Regions from separate parts of the Homo sapiens genome. Here region 1 is linked to region 2. The links come from fine-mapping of genetic effects on gene expression. A gene starts in region 2. The other region holds a variant in brackets. All regions are shown on one strand. Distances are from middle to middle. Region 1 overlaps STAMBPL1 (STAM binding protein like 1). Region 2 holds the start of FAS (Fas cell surface death receptor).

Evidence for each region. PIP is the estimated chance that this variant, and not a neighbour inherited with it, causes the effect.
Region 1: its variant is fine-mapped to the expression of FAS in whole blood (TOPMed, PIP 0.93).

What each region holds. Positions count from the first base shown.
Region 1 is chr10:88,889,028-88,899,677 of GRCh38, reverse strand. All of the region lies in intron 1 of STAMBPL1 (STAM binding protein like 1), which reads right to left. Among named protein-coding and RNA genes, the nearest start is that of STAMBPL1, 14 kb to the right of the region's middle. RefSeq lists an enhancer at 750-839. The variant C/T (reference allele first, on the strand shown) is at 5,917.
Region 2 is chr10:88,987,470-88,995,469 of GRCh38, reverse strand. FAS (Fas cell surface death receptor) reads right to left here and starts at 4,672. Exons shown (of 9, transcript NM_000043.6): 1 at 4,564-4,672. The coding sequence starts at 4,593. FAS-AS1 (FAS antisense RNA 1) reads left to right here and starts at 2,495. Exons shown (of 1, transcript NR_028371.1): 1 at 2,495-4,048. It also overlaps a transcript of ACTA2 not described here. RefSeq lists enhancers at 3,737-3,816, 3,947-4,356, 4,497-5,007, 5,008-5,519 and a silencer at 5,927-5,976.

The DNA of each region.
Region 1 (10,650 bases), 97 kb after region 2:
ATTAGCCAGGCGTGGTAGTGCACGCCTGTAATCCCAGCTACTAGGGAGGCTGAGGCAGGAGAATTGCTTGAATCCATGGGGCGGAGGATGCAGTGAGTTGAGATGGCACCACTACACTCTAGCCTGGGTGACAGAGCGAGACTCCAGCTCAAAAATAAAATATTTAAAAAGTAGAATTATTTCTTTTGATGATTGCTCAGATCCATAAAGAGAGAGCATAGAATTTAAAAGGTTGAAAATATTAGGATAGCGGTTTTTACATTTTACTGCATCTAAAATCACATAAACCTGAGATCTGTTTAAAATGCAGTCTCCTAAGACCCACCCTAAGGATTCTGAATCCATCGGTTTTAAGCCCACAAGTAGGTATTGTCAGATATGGCCCAGTCATTCCAATACATGAGGTTTCCAAACAATACTTTGAGAGACACTGCATTTCAGAATGAATTAAGCAGGATTCTTAATTGCAGGCAAAGGTCTGACTCTTGAATTCACAGAAGGATAATGAAAAAAAACACAAACTTCTAGGAAGGCCAGAGAAATCAGGTTTGGAAGCTACATATCCAAGAACACTGCCCCAGACTACACAGCAGCATTGGTCTGGTGAAAACACCTCTGCTATCTCTATCACTTGATGAACAGGGGATTCTACAGCTTCTACTACCAACACCAGCAACTCCAGCAACTAGCTGCTGCCCTGGGAACGATGTGCAGCCGCCATGTACTTCTGCATGTCTCTAGTTTCTATTTCAAAGCATGAGATGCAGATGTCTGACTGGCAAAGTCTGGGTCCCATGCCTGCAGCCTGGCTGAAAAGATGGCCGAAAATGTAAATATCTAGCACTTTATCCTCCTGTAGGAGGCAGTGGGATATGCCAAGAGAGGAAAGGTGGATTCAGGGCTGGGTGACCAGAAAACAATGCTAAGTGTGAGCAGAAACAATGAAACAAACATCTCTGTAATGAGCTTCTATATGTATGAAATGTTTAAACATATCTTAAACATCAGAGTTTATTAAATTACTATAGATAAAAACTATTCACTCCCACATATGAATATATTAATAATTCAGAAATAGAAGCCAACTCCCCTCAAATCTAAGATGAAAGAAGTTCACAGACTGGTCAGTCAACTTATTTTTTGAACCATGTATTAGCTGATGGTCCTGTCTTAATTCCTTTATCTTTTTGCCCCCTAGTCCTGGCACTTACAGTTGCATTATAAACAATTGCAAGATCAACATAAACAGGTATGTTTTCTAGTTCAGTGGCTCTCAAAATGTGGTCCAGGTTCCCCACGATCCTGTCAGGGAGTCTGTGAGGTCAATATTACTTTCATAATATTACTAAAGCATTATTTGACTTTTTAAATATCAATCTTTCACAGTTGTATAGTGGAGATTTCCAGAGGGTACAAGAGTTAATGGAATGCTTACTTGCATACTCTTATAAATGTCTGTTTTGATTTTTAATACAGTAAATATAAATAGATATAACTCACATAAACAAAGCTTTTTAGTGTCCTTAGTAATTAAGAGTGTAAAGGGGTTCCAAGACCAATAAAGTCTGAAAACCACGGCTCTAGATCAACAATGCAAATGAATAAACAAAACAAAAACTCACTATGCTACCTCAATCTAATCAGAAATAAAGTGGGCCAGGAGAATCTAAAACAGGAAAAATTAACAGCAAGTACCACTTGCCATTTGTGCTACTGTGGTCTTACTAAAACAATTAGAAAATTTGAACTGAGGGTACAGTAAGAGGTACTTCACCTCATAGTACTTGAGATCCACAGATGCTAACTAATGGGAAGTATTCAGTATCATGCAAGAATAAAATAAATTCCCCCTCCAAAGTGGAGGTCCAAAGTGCTACAAAGCACACGGTGCAAACAGCCTTTGGAGTGAGATAAGCCTGGGTGTTGAGTCTAGGCTCTATCATTTGCTTGCTAAATATCCTTTACTGAGCCCCCTCCAAGGTTTACTTTACTCATTCGGCAGGGCGCTTGTCACAGCCACACTTCGCTGCTTTTAGAGTGGCTTAAAACTAATGGAAAACATTCATCAGAAACGCCCGCTTTAATCTCAGCCTACTCCCTGACCTCTACCTCACATTCTTGTGGCTTGATAACATCTGATCATCTGAACTACAGCCTTGTGATCTGTTTAACCTCTAAGATATCTCTTCAGAGTTCTTGCTTCAGAGCTCTTGCCTTCTTGCTTTTATTGCTAGCCCCTTTTCCTGACCATAACCTCCAAAGACATCATCATTTTTTTTCTTTAATCTGACCTTTTATAGAGGAGTAGGGGAGTGTCTGCTTTCTGTTAATCCGACTCACAAGAATGTGGGGAATCATGGTGTCAGAACCATACATATTCACAATGAGCACATGGAGGCCAACCCCTGTCCCAGAGATTCAGCTAACAAGTAGCTCCCAGAACCAACTGAGCAGTCGACTGTGCCCAGAGGGGATGTGGCCAAAATGCTGTCTCATCCATAAGTGGCCTGGGAGGGGGTAAGTATCCTCTCCAAATTGGTATTTCACAGCTCTGAGCTTGTAACAGTTTATTCTCTACATAACCATAGCAAAATCCTCTTGGCTTTTGTGTCCCTGCAATGTTTCCAAGTCTGAAGTCCCCCATGGAAACATGGAAGAGTCTCAACAATTCTGCCCTTTAAAATCAGCAGCAAACAATGCAAGAATGAACAGAGGAAAATATCTGACCTAGCATGGTGCTTATTTTGTGATTTTTTCAGCCTTAATTTCCTTTTCTTTTCTTTCTTTCTTTTTCTTAAAATAGTGTGTGTGTGTGCGTGCGTGCATGTATGTGTGTGTTTGTGTGTGTGTGGCAAAGTTCAGAATCCTGACCCATTTTCATCCACAGAGAAATATTTTCCAGAATTCAGAAAGCAGATGATTACCAGGCAGTGAACGGTCTCCTAAGAGACTCAGCATACAGTAAACAGCCAGCGAGACCATCACCCAAATGTGCCATTTTCTCCCAGGCACTTCTTTTGACTTGAGTGCCCTAGTGACCTGGATAAGTAGGTGTGGCCCATTGGCAGTTAAGAGAGGACAGAGCACCTTATACCACCTCCAGCAGTCTCATTTCTAATTGGCCAAACCAACAGCCACTGGGTTAGTGGTCATGTTTTCCAGGAAGAACATGGTGCAATTTACTCAGTTGGAGGTAGACAAAGAAAATTATTGTAACTCAGCCTGTAGGCTGCAATGACCTAATCTGATTTAGATAAAGAGAGGTAAAGGGTCATTCCCATGTCTTAAATGACAGAGACACAAAGAAGGATCTCCTGAGTCACAGTCTTACAGATTGGGCCCTACTTCAGGAAAAATAAATAAATCTAGGCCCACCCTTCATGTCCCTTTTGAAGGATTTTAAAAATTCAGACATCAAAAGCAAAGATTACATTGATTTGTTTTTACACTTATCTTCTATAATATCTGCAATCAGAAATATGCTGTGACATAGATGATAAATTATCTTTACTAAAATATTGATAAGATAAAAACGAAATGATCATAATATTAGAAATAGCTTTTATTGGATTTTTTCCCTATATTTGTAAGTACTATATATTATCATTTACTAGGTGCCAGGTGCTTGTCTGTTACTTCTAGAGGTATATTCCACATTAAATATACCAGTCACAACAGAATGGTTTATATTAGATCAATGAGCAAGAATGTAGTTGTTACAGGAAAGATGATTAAACAAACCACTCCTGATGCATGTGTTAAATTACCTTGAGGTAGATCTAGGCTACTGTGAGTGCAAGAAAGTCACATACTGGGCCATAAAATAATTATTTTGCATAGTGTAATACAAACTTTTTATCCAGCCACCAAGATGAAGTGGTTCGGTGCCCTTAGCACGAAGAGCTCAGGTTTGGGGGCCATATACTACTTTAGGAGGGGCCAGTTTCTATCACTAGTTGGGAGTGCTACAGCAGCTTATTTAACCTTTTTGTGCACCTTATCTTCATCTATTAAATAGGCACAACAATAGCTTTCCAGAAGAATTCAACTAAAGCTTAAATGAGGTAATAAAGTTCCATTATAGTTCCCAGCTTGCAGGAAGAAACTCAAAGAAAATCAGTTCTTTCTCACAGCAAATGTTGGAGAGGTGAGGTTAATGACCTCTGCTAAAAGTTGACTTCTATTACAGATATCAGATGGTCGGTTGATGTGTAACTACTTGCTTCTTTGCAATGAGCTTTTGACAGACAGTTATCTATCCCCTAGCCACCACTACTTCTTCCTCACCAGCAGGGCCCAGTCCCACTAGAGATAGTCACTTTCTCAGTCTCCCTTGTAGTCAGGACTTGGCTGGTTGGCAAGTAACCAAATATTGGACAATGAGACCTGAGGGGAAATCTGTTGGGAGGATTCTGTGAGAAATTTTCATCTCTAATACAAAGAGACATCCTAGGGAATATATGCCTTTTCATCAGCTGAACATGTGACTTCACATAAGTTTTAAAAGGCAGCAGCCATTTTGCAACCTAGAAGGGTCAAGTCCAAGGACAGCCAGTGTCTGGAGGATGGCAGAACCCAAGGGTGGAATGAGCCTGGCTCCTTGCTCACATGGCTGAGCTGCTGATCTTACCCTAAAACCGTTCTCTTCTAAATTGTTATTATATAAGATTTAAAATGCCATTACAAAAGGCACTCTTAGGATTCTGTAATATGCTCCCTAATTAGCATAGGATTCCTCTGGAAATATAAGAAAATCTTTAGCTATATGAATCCCGTGACAAAAGAGGTGATTCTGAATAGTAAAATAGTAAATAATAATCATAAAATATTATGAGATTTAAATATTTTTGAAGGAAACAGTTCTAAGATATATTATTTACTCCTTAACTTAAAATAGAAACATTAACCCTTTCTTCATAATTCAACATTAACAATGCTTCCCTCCATTTCTAATTTGCTCCGTTTAATCTGTCATTCATTTAGAAAAAAATCACTTAAAAGGCAACTTATTTACTAAACTTCTTGAATTCGGTCTTTTTCCTCCTTTAATCTATTTTCTCTCATTGATAAAAATTATTTGAGATTATTTACAGAATGAAAGTATAGACTAGGTGTGCATCAGGAGAGATCTTCTGTGAGTGAACCACCTGCTGATTACAGTGAATGTGCTACATGATTTCTAATTTTGCTGCTCAAAATGCCTTTTATCTTGTTTTTTCTAGACTGCCTTCTAGGTAAGAGTGAGCTGAATTCTGGGCAGGCAAGGTACTATGTCGCCTTCAATAGAAAAAGATAGCCAAAAAAAAAACCTGTATAAAACAATAGGTACCATTAGCAGAATGCTTTCGTTCCCTGGCTAACTGGATGCATGAACACACATGATCTCAGTTAGCCTTCTCCAATAGGAGGTAGTTGAGCCTTGGGATTAGACATGCAGTCTCCAGGGTTAGAACATCTGAATTCAAATTCTGGCTCCAGGAACCACTAACAGCAGAACTGCAGCTTCCCAAACTGCAAAGGAGGTTGATAATGAATAGGGGTACTGAGAAGGTAAAGTGAGATAATGCTTGTAAAACATATAGCACAATGCTTGGTGCCAGGAAACACTCAAATGATTACGACCATGATTTCCATTTTACAGATAAGAAAACTAAAGCCTAGAAGAGATAAGTAATTCAAGCAAATGACAGAGCAGGGACTCTAAGTGCACAGGAGTTCAGGGCTTATACTCACAGTCACACTGCAACACTAACGACTTGCCTCTCATAATAATCAGGAAAATCCAAGAGAAGGTCACATCCTTGGGCCTTGGACAAGAATGAAAAAATTTACTGTGGAAATGAAGATTTCAGTTCAGCATTACAACTATCTGATTCATTATCTCCTCCCTGCCAAAGAAATAAAAGGACATTCATT[C/T]CCTTCACATTTTTTTGTTGGAGAGGAAATTTCACTCTTGTTGCCCAGGCTGGAGTGCAATGGTGCAATCTCAGCTCACTGCAACCTCCGCTTCCTAGGTTCAAGCGATTCTCCTCTTTCAGCTTCCTAAGTAGCTGGGATTACAGGCATGCACTACCATGCCTGGCTAATTTTGTATTTTTAGTAGAGACGGGGTTTCACTATGTTGGCCAGGCTGGTCTCGAACTCCTGACCTCAGGTGATCCGCCCGCCTCGGCCTCCCAAAGTACTGGGATTACAGGTGTGAGCCACCGTGCCCAGCTCCCTTCACTTTTTTCATCGGCAGAATGATTCAGTGTTTGTGGACTGACTACATGGTATATGTAGTTAAGAAATTCAAATCCATAATTATTCTATCTAGACACAGTTCAATTCAAAATATTTGCTGGTTTTTAATATAAATTCTACATTTTTGTGCTATATCAAAGGCATTTCATATGCTCATCAATGTGCTAATTTTAGATTCTTTTCTAAATGTGATGATTCAATTAATATGCATTATAAAACACTTGGCAAATGAATTTGAGGTGCTGGAGAGAGATTCATATTTGTACACAGATATTTTTTCACCACAAATTCATATGAACTTGCTAATTTGCTCTCCTCCTGTTAAAATACTAAACATTCCTGGAAATAATGCATTTCTAAAGATAAGCTACCCATAAGGCACTAAACTTTAATGTACCTTTTAATATACTTCCTTTTTTATTGGAATTTTGCTTTTAAGAAAATACTATCCAAAAGATACTTAGTTCAATGAAGTATAATGAGTCACAAATAAATGTTTGAAATAGCATCATTTTCCTGCCTGCCAGTTGCCTGAAAGCTCAGAAATGTAGTTAGTCCTTGGGCATTATTAATCAATTTTATTTAATTTTCATAACTTTCTTAAGGACAGTAGTTCTACAAAATGGACTGAGTCCAGCACTATTATTCAAAAGCAAAAGAGGGCCATCCTGAAGTACTTGTCATCCACTGCTTCTCCAGTGTTCTCCAACCACAAGAATCTTAACTGTTTAACATGTCACAGCAGAGGCTGTATTCATACATTTGGTTTTGCACTGGACAATCTCTTCAATGCAGTAGGCAGAAACAGAAAAAAGTTTCCTTCTTAACTTTCCCTGGCAATCCATTTTAAAGAGTTTTCTTGAAGAGCTCCTTATTCTGGCAAAGTTGTTAGCAAGTGGTCATCTGCTGTCCAAATTTGCTCACCATTCATCCCCTTCCTACCTTCCTACCCTAGAGCTGACATCCCCCTGATTTGGATGCCATGTTCCCTCTGGGAGTGGTTCCTGGATAACTTGCCTGCATTACAATGACTTGGTGGAGGAGGGGTGTGCTGGCCACACACACACACACACACACACACGCACACGCACACACACAGACACATACACAAACCCCACAGATTTCTAGGCCCCACTGAGTCAAAATTTCTGGGAAGGGTGCCCCAGGGATCTCCAGCCCAGGATGTTTTTATGCACATTAAAACTTGAGACTCACTGCATTAAACAGTTACAAACCCCCACTAAGCACCTGGCCCTGATCAGCTGAACTTTCCCTATTTAAAATCAACTCCTGCCTTGGCCTCTCTGAAGTGGAGGTGTTTCCTTTCTCCTCCCTCACCCTGCATCTCAAATATTAATATTTCATCTTTTTTTCTTGATATATCTTTATTCTATAAGACACCTTTTTTTTTCATGGCTTCAGCTTAATTTGAGCTTTAGCATTGTACCTTCAAATGTCCTCCATCCATTTCCACCAGGATACCCAACTGTTATTTTTCATTCAATACAATCCAAGGCTAAATGGATCTTTCCTGTAAAAACTGATAGCTCCAAATAAATTTATTTATTCATTCATTTATTCAATGTTACTTATAAAGCCCCTACTTTGTGCTTTTATGGACCTTACATTCTGCTAAGGACCAGGAATGGGGCAGAGAGGTGTAAAAATAATAAACAATTATCTACACAATTATCTAATAAAGATTGTGGTGACTGTGAGAAAGATGAAATACAGAAAACAATGAGAGTTATGCATTTTTTTGGCAAAAAAATACCTTATAAGTGATGGTGTATCCTCCATGATGTATCAGGAGACATATGTTATTGATTTGTTCAATTATTAATGATGTTAATCGTGATATTTGTTTAAGTTATATCGGTCAGGTTTCTCCACGATACTATTTTTCTCTTTATAATTGAAAAGTATCTTGTAGGGAAACTATGCAAATATACCATTGCCCACTAATTTTAGCATTTGAAGATTTTTTTCCCTGAGACAATTATTGTGGTGTTTGAAAGTGGCCATTTTTCTATTTCTATTTTTCCTTCTATAATTATTAGTTCAGCTGACATTCTTGCTTGAAAGCTGTTTAATTTTTACATGGAATTTTTAAAATTTAAGCTTTCAAGTGGACCTATTTTCTTTATGGTATCTAGGTTTCTCAACATTCTTTAAAAGGTCTTCAAACTTACTCATCATAAACAATTTTAAAATATGTCTACTGATCTTTTCTTCTGGTACTTCTGTGGTTAGTCATTTTTGGATAAATACATTTGACCTGTGTGGAATTTATTTTTTGTAAGGAGTGAAAGAAGAATATGGTCCTTTCTTGACCGCTAGGCAGAATGGCCTTTTTCCTTCTGCCTCAATTATAACTCGGAATTGACTCCAGTTCCATGAAATATACTTAACTTACTTAATTCCCAACTCTTCCCAACAAAGTGATCTGCCCAAACGAGGCACTTAGTACATATTTATTAAACACACATACTCTGGAAGCGATGGATAAAGTTACAGAGAATAGAGGAATTGGTAGCCCAGAGAGGAAGCAAGTATGCAACACTGGAATGAGGAAACCCTTGTCCAAACTGAAGAGCAGTGAAAGAAATGGAGAAGGACAAACAGTTATTGGGAAAGATTCTGAGGAAAAACCATAGAACTTGGAAGCTAAGTGGCTATAATGAGATACAGAAGCATAAATAAGCAAATATATTGTAAATGTTGGCATCTAAAAGAATTGGAGATGGTGATGCTTCTGACTTCACTATCAGAGGTGAAGAATTGTCTCTTTCATCTCCATGGATGGTACCAACATCCAATCACTTACACAAATATCTGGCAAACGCTGATATTAGCAATCCTGCACCTACCCCTTCCCTTAACCCCACATCCAATCTATCACCTGCATGTGCAGATTCAGATTCACCCTCCAAAACATCTCTCAAAACTGCAGGTTTTCACCGTCTTTGCGGGGAGGCTCCTTAATGTACACCCCACCCTTTTCTCTGCCTGCATTGCTAGAACTGCCTCCTAGTTGTTGTATTTGTTTCTATCTTGCTCCCCTTTGATTAATTCTACCTGGTGAAGAATCTACCTGTAGTGATCTTTTAAAAACCTGATTCAGATATTGCCATTCCTTTGCTTAAAGCCCTTGAATGATGTTCTATTGCTGTTAATATCCTATAACCTTAATAAGTCCCACAAAGCTGGGTCTGACCAGACTGCCTCCTTAGAGCCTTCTTTCACACCACCTCCTCCACTGGCTTCTTTCAGTTGCTTAGATGCACTATGCAAAGTCAATGCAAAGGCACCCCATCCTCAGTTCATACTTCCACTTTCTACCCATCTTTCTGGTGTTAGCTTAAGCATCTCTTTTTCAGGCAAGTTATTTTTGACCATCATCAGACTAGGTCACTCTCTTGATTACATACTCATGAAGAAACATCAAATAAACCCAAATCAAGGGATTTTCTAGGAAACAATCAGCCAATGCTCTTAAAAAGTGTCAAGATCATGAAAGACAGAAAGACTTAGGAACTATTGCAGATTAAAAGAGACTAAGGAGGCATAACAAATGAATTCAATGTATGATCCCAGAAAGGATCCTTGCCCAGAAGGACTTCGGTGAAATTTGAATAAGATCTGTAGATTAGACAATAGTATTGTGTCAGTGTTAATTTACTGATTTTGATGACTACTGTGGTTTTGCAAGGTGTTAATATTTGAGGAATCAGGGTAAAGGTTGTATAAAAACTTTGTGTACTGTTTCCACAATCTTTTGAAAGTCTAAAATTATTTTAAAATAAAATATTCTGTAAATGCTTGAATAGTACTTTTAAAAATCTTTTCAACAAGTAAAAGAATAAAAAAGTTTGCACCACTGACAGCTATAATATTTATTATCTGTAAACTATAGGAAACATTTGCATAACAGTAAGAAAAAGAGTAAAAATGGGCAAGTGACATGAGCAAGTAATTAAGAGAAATATAAACAGTTAAGTCACAAGAAATAAACATCTAAATTCACTAGTAATTAAGAAACTGAATTTAAGCCAGGTATTTAATGTATTTGATTGGTAAAATGTATATGATTGGTCCAACTCAATATGGATGAGGATTGAAAAAAATGTCAGTTTTTAAAATAATATGCATTCCTGTTGACTAAGCAATTCCAATTTTAAGATCTCCCCATAGATTTCCTTGACCATTTAATATATACACACACACTGCAGCATGGTTTTAAAATAAATAGCCATCAAAAGAGGAATACTTAAAATAAAGAATCTCTATAGCATATGAAACTGTTAGAAAGGACTTACATCTATTTGTACTGAACCAGGATGTCATCCAAGTTAGAGCATTAAGTGAAAACAGCTAGCTGTGGAATAACATATAAAATATAGCTCC
Region 2 (8,000 bases):
ACTATGATTGCCATTTCTAAATGTCTAAAGATGGGGTGACTGGGCTGTACAACAGTTTATTTCAAATCAAGAAAGCAGTTGTGATCAAAGGGAAGAACCACCTCATTTCCTTCCGGGGAAGGTGAAGTTACCAATCTTACAAAAGTCAATTTCTCTCTGATTTGGGCTTTACTACTCACACTGTCACTTCAAAGACAGTAAAGGTAGGCAAGTGGACTGAAGATTTGTTCCTGCTTGAGACTGAATTGAAGATATTTAATTGGTGTTAGAAGTAGAACTATATAAAAAGCTAAAGACTTTTTTTAAAGCAAGGATTTTCCAGAAAATAAAGAGGATTTATTAAATGTTATTTTTCCACTTTTATGAATATATATATACATACATAGCAAAAAGAAAACTACACACTAAGGCTATTGTAGTGTTGTACCTTATAAGGAAGTACAAGGTACAACATATAAAATTATGTTGCTTTTTATCGTTTTGAATTATTTTATTATTTTTCATCACAAGTCCTAAAATTTTAATATGTAAGTTCTATGAGTAATTTTTTAGTAACAAGAAAAAGTCATATATATATATGTATCCCAGTACATTTAAGAAATGCTTTTTTTCAATAGTAAATTATAAAAATAAGTAATAAATTAAAAAATAAATAATAAAAATTATAGTAATCCCAGCTCATTTAATAAATGCTCTCTCTATAATGTATCCAATAAAAAATATGAGATAAAAATTATGTAGAAATAGAAAAAGGTTTGTGTAACATGCAAAGGAACAAAAAACAGACTATATATAGCTCAAATTAAACATGCAATTATGTATATGTGTAGACAAGGCTAAGAATTTATAAGTAAAATCAAAATTCTTTACATTAGTGTGGTGAGATAAAGTATAAATGTAGTTTTTAAATATTTGCTTTTTGTTTCACATCATGTGGTCATTTTTTCTATATTTACCTATTTAAAAATAAGAAAGGGATGGGTTCACTGTCCTAAATTTGGTTTCAAGTTGCTTTTTATCAATTTCAAGTTTTAAATTGTGTTATTTTATTTTTCATCATAAGTAAATAGTCTTTAGTACCTATTACAAAACATGTGCTCATCAAGGGACTTTTGGGGCCCAAGATAATTTGCCAAAAGCAATTAACTTCCTAGGGGCTTTCAAGTGGGGGGATTTCCTTACTTAGGTTTCAGACCATCTCTTAAGAAACAGTTATTCTCTCAAACTGGCAGTTTACTCTGGTAATCTGGCACCCCTAAAGCAATGTAGTAGCCTTCAAAGAGATTCCTTTGAAACACTGACACTTCTCCTATGTGTCAGTATAAGAGTATTCAGAAGGAAATTACTTGTCCAGTGTCTCAAAGAGCTTACTCAGAGACAACGTCCAAATTCCAGAACTTCTTTGCCTCTAATTTGCTGCTAAGGGTGGTAACTGTATTTCAGGCATGAACATTAGAGGATTTTTCATCAGTCTAACTATAGCTGGTAGTGGGGGTGCTGCCATTTATCAATTTAATTTTTGCTTGCAAACCTGGCCATCATTTACAAATTTGTGTTTTTCCATCCTGGTTGCTAATGTCTTAATTCATATTTTATCATTTTATTGTATTTGTAAGACTTCTCAAGTCCTTTGTGATGTAAATATGGCCCATTAAAAATGAAAATAAACAGCCCAATATGTTCGTTAGGTTGGCTTAAGAAAAATTATTAAATTACAAATTAAGCTACAAAAATAAATAAATATTCCATTTTATGCTCTTTGGGTTGGTTTAAGAAAAATGATTAAATTACAAATTAAATAACTGTTCTTTATTTTCCCCACAAAACTATTCTGTATGACTGCTTGTAAATACACAGCTTTATTTTCCAAAGGCCCTCTCCCTTTCCTTTGACCATAAGATAACCATTCTACAAAATGTAAAGGAGAGCAAACTGGCTGTCCAGTGATTGCCTGGCCAATGTCCTAAATAATGCAAGACAAAACCTGTTGGGGCCCAATAAAATAAAAATCCATGGACTCTTAGAGGCTTCGGAATTCAAATGAGCCTCATGGATCCACATCCCTTCAATTAGCAAGCTGGCATTTCTGAGCGAGGGACTTTCCAAAACAGGCTGCTCAAGTTTCTTGGCCAATAACAGGGTCATGCACAATAAAAAAAAAAAATGCAACCCACAGCTATTTCTCAAATTAATTTGTAAAGTAAGTTTGACTCTTTTTCTGTCTCCTTTAGAAATTTGTCAACTTTTTGGGATTTCAAACTTTTTTATTGTAAGTGTCGGAGTAAAAACACTCAGAAATAGGAAAGAGAAAACTAACACCAGGAAGGTTGAGAGAAGGAAAGAGAAAGAGAAGCAAAAGGGGTTAAGGATGGGGATACTTGTTGACTATAGTTATCACCAGAGTCAGAGGACTAGGGGAAGAGGGGAAAAGCAGAAAACAGCTCCCCACCCATCTATGTCCAGCCCATTAATAGAATTAAAATTTGCTTCTGTATTCCAAGTAATTAGCACTTTGCATCTATTTTATTTATTGCTACTACTAAGAAAACATAACCGTGAAGGCATAAAAGCAAACATTTTCTGTAGACACATGAGGTGACACAAGAGTGTTGAAACTTCTTTAAGGATAAAGGCCTGATGTTAGGCATGTCGTGAGCGCAAAACCAATTTCTGTGTAACTAAATTTAAAAGAGTCATATTAGAGGGGAGAAATGGAAGATAAACTGCAAAACGTAAACAATGATTACTTAGGTGATAGAGTTATGTCTGATCTTTGTATTTGACTCATCTGCATTTATAAATTTTATTTAATAAGCCTTAATTTCCTAGGCCATATATCATATACAAATATAAGTTATACCTAACTTATAGGTATTATAATATGTATATATACATAAATGTATGAATATTTACATATGCGTGTGTGTGTGTATTCTTTCAGAAAAGCAAAGTTTTCTTCGGGCTTTAAACACGCAGCCTCTGGTAAAGGTGCTATTGGTACAAAAGTTCAACAAGCATAGCTCCAAGCTTTGACAATTTTCTTACACTTTACTAATACTGCTGTCCAAAAACTATGAGATTTTCAAAGCAGCCAACATTGCAGTGGTGCAATGGTTAATAACAAGAGAGAGAAGAGTGTGGCCTGAGGTTGTATAAATGTTTTCTCAATCTTGAATCATTAATTTTCTCCAAGGAAGTTTCTAAAGAATCCCAAATAGTGCACACTATTTCTGAAAGGAACAGGATTTTTTTTTCTAATCATAAAATGGACCCAGACATCTCAGCCTCTTGGTGTAATCTGGATATCAGATGCAATCAGCGAACAGCCTGAGTTTTGGAATTAGATCTGAGTTCAATCCCATATCTCCCATTTACTAGCTGTGTGATCTTGGCTGAATTACTGAAGCTCTCTGAACCTCATTTCGCCATCTGTAAAATGGGGATGTGGTTATCTTCCCCACTACATGGCTCTCGTGAGAATCCGCGGAGATCACATTTGTAAACACTTCTCTCGCTATGCCTGGCACTTTGTTGGGGCCCAATAAAATAAAAATCCATGGACTCTCAGAGGCTCCGGTACTCAAATGAGCCTCCTGGATCCACGTCTCTTTGATTAGCCATCTGCAAGCTGGCATTTCTGAGCGAGGGACTTTTCAAAACAGGCTGCTCAAGTTTCTTGGCCAATAATAGGCGCCGGGTTCTGTGCGGTGGGAACGAGTACCACCAACCCCAGCAGGAGACCAAGCAGAAATCACCATGGGAGTGCAAGCTAAGAAAGGGCAAAAGAAGAAAGAGAAGGGCAGAAAAACAAAACAAAATGAAACCACTCAGGCAGCGACTTACAGTCTTAAAGAGAGAATTCCCGGAAGGGAGACAAGGCAGTTTCTTTTTCTGTGTGACAATAAAAAACGGTAAACAAGCCTCCAGAAGCTCATTCAGCCCCCATATAACTTTTTCGAGAAAGAAAAGGTGCCGTTCTTCCGAGCCCTCCGGCTTAACCACTGCTTCGGTGCTGACTTATTTCCTACGTCTGAGAACTGCCAGAAAATGAGCAATATCTGTTCTGAAGGCTGCAGGCTCTCTCCCCGCCCCCGCGGGGCGGCGCGCACTCACCCACCCGCGCCGGAGCGGACCTTTGGCTTGGCTTGTCAGGGCTTGTCCAGGAGTTCCGCTCCTCTCTCCAACCGGGGTCCCCCTCCAGCGACCCTAAAGCTTCCCAGACTTCCGCTTCAATTCCTGTCCGCACCCCACGCCCACCTCAACGTGGAGCGCAGTGGTCTCCGAGGAGCGCCGGAGCTGCCCCGCCTGCCCAGCGGGGTCAGCACTTCGCATCAAGGCCCAAGAAAAGCAAGTCCTCCAGCGTTCTGAGCACCCGGGCCTGAGGGAAGGTCCTAACAGCCCCCGGGAGCCAGTCTCCAACGCCTCCCGCAGCAGCCCGCCGCTCCCAGGTGCCCGCGTGCGCCGCTGCCGCCGCAATCCCGCACGCGTCCCGCGCCCGCCCCACTTTGCCTATCCCCGGGACTAAGACGGGGTAAGCCTCCACCCGGGCAGGAGAGGGCTCACCAGAGGTAGGAGGGTCCAGATGCCCAGCATGGTTGTTGAGCAATCCTCCGAAGTGAAAGAGCTTCCCCAACTCCGTACTGAGCGGGTCCACCAACCCGCGGGAGAAGAGGCAGCTCCGCCTGGGCAGCCAGGGCTGGCCTCAGGGTGTGTTCCGTGCCAGTGCCCGCCCCTGAGGCTCCAGCCAAGTCACTCGTAAACCGCTTCCCTCACTCCCCAGAAGCGTCTTTGAACACCTGTGTGTCACTCTTGCGCGAGATCAGAGACGAGCTCACGAAAAGCCCCGGTGGTCAGGAGGATGGGAAGGAAGCCTCGCTGGGGAACGCCCGGGTTGGGGAGGGCTCCATTGATTCAGCAACTTGGCCTGCGCGCGGGTAGGGAGGGGGAGAAGTCAGGGTGAGGAAGGAGTCAGGGTTCGTTGCACAAATGGGCATTCCTGTCCCGGGGCGTTCCTGCAGTGGCTGGCATGCTCACTTCAGGTGAGGACCTCGAGAGCCGGCCTCCTGCCCTTTCTAAAGGCTTCTGCTGTAGTTCAACCTGGGAAGTTGGGGAGGTCTTGAAGGAGAATGGAGCTCAGAGCGCAGAGGTCCTGCCTGGGTACAGGAGCCTTGGCTAATTGCTGGAGTCACTCAGAGAAAGACTTGCGGGGCATTTGACTGGGCTGTCCATGTTGTGGCTGCAACATGAGAGGCTCACAGACGTTTCTGGAATGGACAGTTAACCATATGAAAAAGTACAGATGTTGCGCCATAGGGCTCTGAAAAGGGAGGGCCCCTTAGTTTTTATTTCTCAAGAGGAAAACAAAGCTAACAACTTAAGCCAAATCGCATAGCCCCAGCTATATTAAACATTCACAATTACTTCCTGTCCTTCGTTACTCATTATTTCCTGGCCAATTTTCTTTAAAAAAAAATCTTGTAATTCTTTCGTGCTCTGGTGAACACTGTTCAAAGTCACTATTGCTTTGGAACGGTAGATAGCTCTTAGGTAGTTTAGCATGAATTTTACAGAAGGTATGTTTGGATAATGACATCATTACTGAACCTGAATTTGGATGCAGTTCCAGACTGGACACACTAAAGGTTTCAGTATTCCTTTGGCATCGTCCACCAAGCTCTGCACCTCACTCTGCAACCTCTCTCCCTTCCCAATTAGATTCAACCCATTAATAACACATTAATAACCCTTTGCTTAGCCCACTGTTCATCCTTCAGGCTTCCTCTCAGTTGACATTTTCTTCTGGAGCCTGTTTGGGCCCTCAAATCTAGGTTAGGTTACCCTCCTGAGGGCTTTCCATCACCCTGTGTTTTGCATCTGTCACTGCACTTACCACCAGTCTTGTAGGTGTTGATAGGCTTGTCTCTGTTCCACCTTTCAGTAGACTGTTAGTGCCATGAGGAAGACCCTGGGCGTGCCAGCCTTGTGCACACACTCTGAGCATCTAATAGACACAAAAAGAAGTGGGATAAGGAGGATGGTATATGGGCATTCTCTGTATTATCTCTGCAAATTTTTTGAAATCCTAAAACTATTCCAAAATGAAAAGTTCATTTAAATAAAAAAATGTAAAAAGAAGGAAGGAAAAGGGGTGTGAGGGAAGGAAAGGAGAGGTAAGGGAAGAAGGAATGGAAGGAGGGAAGAGAGAAAAAAAGGGGAAAGGACAATTGACAAAATCAGTATCTCTTGAGTGTGAATTATAAGCCAGCAACTCACATATGTGGATCTTCCTTACTTAATACTTATCATTATAGCCCAGTGAGATGAGTGATTATTAAACTTACTTTACAAATAAAAAAATGTAGCCAAAAAAGCTTAAGCAACATTGGCAAAGATGGTTAGTTAATAAATAGCAGAGTCAGGAATTAAACTTAGATATTCTTGCTCCCAAGGTCCTGCTCTTTCTATGCCATACCCCCTTCCCCTACCCTCTGCCCACGTACGTCTAATTATCCTCAAGTTCAAGGAGATAGGAATATGTGCTTTGTGGGGAGACATATGTTTCATGGTCAAATAATCTTAGAAAATTCTGGGTTACTTTAATTTGAAAACTTTCTGAATCCAAAACTTCTCAGGGCCCTTAGTATGCTAATGTCAAAGGGTTGGGTAATTATATATACTGTTCCCCAAACTTCTTTGCCTTTGGAATCCTTTGAAGAATCTATTGAATGAACACCTAATGAATGCTGGTGTTCTGGGGAAAACAGTTTGGGCATCTCTAAAGGTTATTTTTATTTTACCAGCATATTCCTGAGAGTCCTCAGGCCTTCAAGGGCAAAGAAATAAAATTTTAATAATAGAATTTCAGGCACTCCAACAGATGTTGGAGATATTTTGGACAACCATCCTTATTCAAACCATACCATATAAGTTAAAGCTTCTACTCAAAAGATATCCTGGTTTCTGAACATTCTGAATAACACTTAAACAAGAATCTTGACTATGTAAAAAAACAGGAAGAGTTAAGATAAAAAACAAAACAAAAAAAAAAAAAAACTTCTACATCTTTTTACCACTAAGACTTTTGTTCTTTTCCCCTTTGGTCCTAATGTTTAAAAAATGTTGTCAACCAAATTGTTTTTACTAAATTGCAATAAGTTGATTTTAATAACTCCCAGCTATAGTGTATATCCATGACTGTTTATCCTGCCTTTCTCCTTCTTCTTCCTTCTGGTAATAGTACTTCCAAGTTGTCTTTAGAAAAACTGTCCCTCTCCCCTCTTCTTAACTATTTGATGTGAGTGGTTCTTTTAGTCAGGGTTCTCTAGAGAAATAGAACCAAGAGAATGAATAAATGGAAAGATAGATAGGAGTTGGCTCACGTGATTGTAGAGGCTGGCAAGTCCAAAACTTTAGCATTGGCCAACAGGCTGGAGACCCATGAAAAAGTTATAGTTCAAGTCCAAAGGCCGTCTGCTGGCATAATTCTCACTCACTCAGTGGAAGTCAGTCTTTTTTTTTTTCTTTTTTAAGGCCTTCAACTAACTGGATAAGGCCTATTGACATTATAGAAAGCAAATGTTTTACTCAAAGTGTAAAGATTTAAATGTTAATCCCATCCAAAACATTGCTTTACAGAAACATCTAAGATAGTGTTTGACTAAATAGCCAAGTGCCATGGCCTAGCTAATTTGATACATAAAATTAACCATCACAGTGGCATTGGTACCAATCCCAGGGCTTGGGTATATGTGTAGGTGGAGGGAGGTAGTGGGTGGGAAATGTGACTTGGCTTAAGCCAATCAGCACATCACATTCAGTTGGAGTAGATTTTGGGATCTTTACTGGAAACACTGGGACACAAACCCTTTCTTTTTCATTGGATTTGAAGTAGAAATATGTGAGATGTGAAACTGATGTGGTTGGTTGTGAAGGGAGCTTGTGGCCCTGCCAGAGCTGAAAACAGTCAACTCATGCTGAGAGGAAACCACACTGAGAGGAAA